2 separate regions of the Homo sapiens genome follow, and region 1 is linked to region 2. The links come from fine-mapping of genetic effects on gene expression. A gene starts in region 2. The other region holds a variant in brackets. All regions are shown on one strand. Distances are between the middles of the regions.

Region 1 (2,926 bases), 28 kb after region 2:
ATTGCTGTTGTTATTTTAAAACTACTGGGTGATAGGTTTTTGGCCCAAAGTGATTAGATCTTCATGCATTAAATATTATTTTGGTATTATTATAGTCAGTTATCATTATTAAATAAAAATTGCAAAATGAGATTCAAGCATACATATAATCTCATTTTGCTTTTTAAACAACTGTAAAATAACTATTTTTTACCACAAATTTTGATGATAAAGAATGTAAAATGACAAATGTTTATGTTTTATTTTGAGTGCTCTTGGAAGCAATGTTAATTTTAGAAATGTTTAAATAGCACTTATTTTCTCCCAACCATACATACATTTACATAGAAATTCTTTCATTTGTTGCCTTCAATCAGAACCTTTTAATACCCAGGACACTTGTTTCTTCACATCTTTGTCAAAGGCATATGAATACACTTGATAAAAATTTAAATACTTATAGATTTAAAAGAGCAGCAAAAGACTCACAAAATTATAGAACTGAAGGAAAAGTGACACAAAGTATCAGAAACACACCTCCAGGGCTCTATTATGCTAAGTACCACTACTCTACAAGCTAGCACAGCGAAGGAAGTCACTTCACCTAGCAGAATCAGTTTCTTTCATCCATTACAATAAAAACACATTTACATCCTCTACATTTTGACCCTTTTTCTAAATGAAGTAAATTGTTTCAGCTTTATTTACATGCCACCTGAGACTCTCAGGCTATCAGACCAAAAGACTTACTCTGGCTGACTTAATGTTAACATTAAGAGAAGAAACCTTTTTAAAGTAGAGCAACTCATTTCTCTCGAAATCTATGAGTTGCCAAATGTCTAAAATTTTCCCACTTTGTTAAAGGTAATCATACAAACCAATTTGCCTGGTTTCTTTCAATGAAGCATCAATTATTTCGCTGTAAGACCCGAGCTACTGTGTATCTTAAAACCCATGCCTCCCGATGAGTCCAAGAAGAATGACAAAGAATCTTGGAAAAGGTATTGAACAAAGAAAGAGGCATTCATTCAGTAGTCCAGCAGTCTGGCGTACGTGCCCCATTGTCCACGATCAGACCTGAGCAGCAGGGCCCTCTTTAGGAAGGTGGCTCTCAAAACCAGTAAGAAAAGCTGCAAAGCAGGA[G/T]CTTGCCGCCTGCACCCTGACTCTTAATACTTGCACAGGCTTCTGCACCTACTTGATAAATGGAAATGCTGCTCGCTTCTCTCCCAAGCTTGCCGGGGGCCCTCTTGAATGTTTTTTTTGACTCGTTACCAAAAAAGCAATTGGCAGTCAGCTCCCAGTAGACAATGCAATGTGACTTGTTCATTCAAACAACCCTTAATTAGCATCCCATCTCCTTTCTGAGATACAATAGCTTATTTTTACACACTGAATACATTTTTCCCTCATTTAGATGACAGAAAAAGAGACCAGATAAGTGTGGGTACTTTTGAATATGAGGTGGGGGACAGCTGCAAATGCAGTTGTTTCTAAGAGTACAAGTTCATGTTCAAATTATTTTCCTGTACAGCTTTTTAGGGTTTCTTTATTGTGGTGCTAACAATGAGATAAAAGAGGCAGAAAAGGCAGGGAAGAAAAATGCTGCCTTACAGATAATACTGTGAAACCACACTAATTGTAGGTGATTCAAAATAGCATGCTATTTAGCAGAATATAACCCCAAATCATCACTATTCTTTTGCTAGCTAGGCTTATCCTTTCAGTAAAATTATCTATTAATTCTAAGAATCCATAATTTGGAAGAAAAAAATAGGTTTCCAGAGGACAGTGTCTCTTGTGCAAACAAGTTATTATCAAACTCTGACTGAAAAGATTCTGGACATTAACCAGTGCTTTGTAACTGGTGGTTTACAGCAAAAGTAGGATGTAACACAAAGCAATGCAAATTCTTTTTTTTTTTTTTTTTTTTTTTTTTTTTTTTTTTGTGATGGAGTCTCATTCTATCACTCAGGTTGGAGTGCAGTGGCACAATGTCAGCTTACTGCAACCTCCACCTCCCGGGTTCAAGCGATTCTCCCGCCTCAGCCTCCCAAGTAGCTGAGATTACAGGTGTGCACCATCACGCCCAGCTAATTTTTGTATTTTTAGTAGAGACGGGGTTTCACCATGTTGGCCAGACTGGTCTTGAACTCCTGACCTCAGGTGATCTGCCCACCTTGGCCTCCCAAAGTCCTGGGATTATAGGCGTGAGCCACTGCGCCCGGCCGCCAGCTCATATTTTTGTGATCTTTTTTCTTCCCTTGATTCTCCTTCTGGCCCCCACCAAGTTAGGGCTATGTGAGGAGGCGGTCTAGCTAGTTGTTTAGTTGCCTGAAAAAAAAAAACCTATTTTTAAGTTATTTTCTTTTTAGTTTCTATATATTTAAATATCAGAGATATTGCTCTATAAGCTAAAGATCTGTATCATCACATAGAATGTGGCTCTAAGTAAATAAAATCTTCATACTTAGCTTCATTTGGGTTATATTAATACATGAGAGGGATAGAATGGGTCAGGTTGTCTAAAATTATTATTACTATAGCTACTTTTATTCCTGGTGCTCCGATGGAATATTACTGACATAGGCTCAGAGATTTAAGTACCTTCACCAACATCATATCATTTAGCCCCTTCCACAATCCTTTGAAGTAGGTAGGGTGGGTAGCAGGTATTATTATTATTTAAATTATTTTTCAGATGAGGACATGAAGGCTCAGGTGTTTTGGTAGGGGAAAATTGCCTTGGGGGGCTAGAATTTTCCAAGAAAATATCACTTTATGAATGAAACTTTCCATCTTTGATTTCCACACTGACTCTTAACCAATGCTACTTAACCACAGCATTGACCAATGACCTGTTCCCTCTGTCAAATATGTTGAGGCACATGCAACCTTGCATAGTCTTGGTTCACTCTCCTACTGAGCTCAGTACTTCTGTTACCATCTT
Region 2 (2,926 bases):
GGTATTTCCTGGCCTTCTTGACCACTACTCTGGAGCCTTGTTTCTGGAGAAAGAGAGAGGCATTTTCCACCTCAAGGAAGCCTTCCTGATCATAGCAGGTCCATCGGGGTGCCTGGGAACAGCGGTCCAAGATGGCTGAGCGGGAGGGGCCGCGGGAAGAGTTGGAGATGGCCAAGCACAGTGCAGATTTAACATGAAGGAGCTTTTCATCCTCAGTCCACATCCACTGCTGGTTCTGGATGGTCCTGTTGCATGAGCCCACGACCACTTTCTCATTTTTGAAAAGACACTGTTGTTTCTGGACATGGACAATCTGAAACCCTTCTGGAAGATGAAAAGCTCATAAAGCACTATGTAGCAAATTATGAGGCCCATTAGAAAACGGAAGAACCCACCCACAAATGAGCTAAATAAAATCACTAGTTTTACTTATATTTTGTTATTTCTATCATTTCAAGTGAACATTCTCATATTTAACACATGTGATTTAAAATTCCAAAGCTGACGATATAAAATGTCAATATGTTACACTTAACTCCCCATCTTTTTTTTTTTTTTAATTTTCACATGCTTTAGGGGAAAAAAGCACACCTCTTATTGGAAAATGAAAGGAAGCTTGGAAAGAAACAAAACCATCCAAAGTATATAGTATATTTTAGCCCAATTAGTTAGATATGCTGAAGTTATGAAATGCTCAGCTCCCTTTTTAACCATTTGACATATTCGATATAAGCTTCCTCCCTTACCTTAAAAAAGCACCCCCTTTTCCAGTCTTTAAATTCACATTGCAGTATTTATATACAAATTTCATAGTTTGAATAACAATTTTTTAAAATTGCATACATTTATCAAAAAATAAAACAAATTTTCCCACTTCTCCAAGCACAACCTCCTAGCTAATTGCAGCCAATGAAAGTATTGATTATCACAAACTAAATTTCCTTTAGTCGTGGAGAGGAGCATTTCTCTATTTTATGACAATATCTACAGTTTTCTCTCAAATACGAATAGATTTTCTAAAAATCATCATGTGCCAGTGTAAGAAAATTAAACATCAAATTGCTAAACATCAGTATTAAAGAGCAAGATACTCTGGCTCAGAAACCATTTTCAATGAGGTTTTACTTAAATTGCCCAGCTCGCTCATGAAAATGTTCAGCCCTCCCAAATGACAACTTCCAAATAAAACACACTACATTTCCTCACCCCCTTTAATCATATTCCTTCAATTTTCTTTCTTCAACACAAAAGAAAATAAAACTATAACCGGGTCGGAAAAAGGCTTGGGGAAAGCCACAGACTGTTATATAATAATACAAACTTTTCCTCGGGGTTCTTTACGCTCTGCTCTAAATGTATCATTTCAGGGGCTGCCTGAAGCATTTGGAGGATGAGAGGAGAGCATTTATTTTCTTTTGGAGAGAAATCTCAACAGTATGGGCATAGCTGGCTCCTTTTATTCCTGCTTTTCATCGTCTTTGGCTAAACTGCCATGGAGACCTGGCCCCTTCTACCTTATTTCAGACACTTCAAAGACCAGGGACTCCTTGGCTAGATCTTGAAGAAATGCCTCAGGACACTGAGGCAGACCCACTCACCTGAGTTCCTGAAGATCAAGCAGGTAAGAATCACCATGTAAAATTCAGCCTCCATTTTCCACTTAGCAACTGTTCATGCTTCGCTTGGGGAAAAAAAAAATTCTCCCAGATAAGAGAAGCAAAGACTAGGAAGGAAATGTGCCTTCATGGTGGGGGGAAAAGTCAGTGACGAGCACTTCCTCCTATTGAATTGTTTGGGGAAGTTTTACACCAGTGTCCTTTTGTCTGTTTCCTTAGAAAGAAGGGATTATGATTACCTCTTTTTTTTAATGTAGAAAATATTCCAGCCTTCAAGAGCAGAGTAAATCTCGTTAAGACCTCACCTACCTTTCCTTTGGCATGTGACTGCTTCTTAACCTCAAGAAGAAAGAAAGGAATTGAAATCTCAGATAATTGAATGTTCCTGAAACATTACATCTCTTCAGGTGATGTGATTCTGCTGAATAAACATAAGCCATGTAATTGATGAGGGTCTATGACAAGTGATATAAAGACATAAACATGTACTGTTTGTATAATGATATGCTGCGAGTCTATTGAGGAAAACCACATAATGATGGCACTTCTAGATCATTATCTCCCAAGTGATGACAATATTACATTTTGAGATCGTCATCTTCACTGGGGAGATGCAGACACTAAAATTAAACCCATCACATTATCTACTTTGGTCTTCCCCAAACAGAGGATGGCGTCTTTCCAAATAGAAAAAAAAAAAAGAATATGCTTTACTCAGTATTTAGTATTAAGAGTTTATTGGCAGTATGAAACAAAGTCAACATTGCTGCATTAAAAATTCATATATGAGCAGAACAGCTAGTGTTTGCTGAGGGTAGTTATTTTAATTTTTTTTGTCTCTTGAAGATTGAAAGCTTTCAGAAATGTAAGGACATACATGGAAATGTCCTTATAAGGAGCCTCGAAAATGGGACAGATTATATCATTCCTGAAGGCATATACCTTTTGTTGAGAGAGAGATTCCAGGTAGATAGCATATTCAAAAATCCCTTCTTAGCAAAAGAGAGACAAGTAGTTAAAACTCTTGATACTTCAGAGTTGCTACAAATTTGTTTTTCCCTTTTAAAGTAAAATGACTCACGATGTGGAAATACAGTGGATAGAGTTCTGGAGCAGAAGCCACCTTTATGCCCAATAATAGAGAGTAAATACATATATACCCAATGACAATCATTGTGCTCTGTAATTGTTTGATAGGAGGGACTATAAATACACATTTAATAGGTAATATTATCAAGACACATTTCCATATAAAATAGTTACTGTTTTTGATTTTTGTTTTTCAAAAACAAAGACTTCTCTGTTAAAAA

Evidence for each region. PIP is the estimated chance that this variant, and not a neighbour inherited with it, causes the effect.
Region 1: its variant is fine-mapped to the expression of PTPRB in blood mononuclear cells (TOPMed, PIP above 0.99).

The regions. Positions count from the first base shown.
Region 1 is chr12:70,663,476-70,666,401 of GRCh38, forward strand. All of the region lies in intron 10 of PTPRR (protein tyrosine phosphatase receptor type R), which reads right to left. Among named protein-coding and RNA genes, the nearest start is that of PTPRB, 28 kb to the left of the region's middle. The variant G/T (reference allele first, on the strand shown) is at 1,123.
Region 2 is chr12:70,635,743-70,638,668 of GRCh38, forward strand. It overlaps PTPRB (protein tyrosine phosphatase receptor type B), which reads right to left and starts at 1,687. Exons shown (of 34, transcript NM_001109754.4): 1 at 1,599-1,687; 2 at 1-324. The coding sequence starts at 1,653. It overlaps PTPRR (protein tyrosine phosphatase receptor type R), which reads right to left. Exons shown (of 14, transcript NM_002849.4): 14 at 2,337-2,926.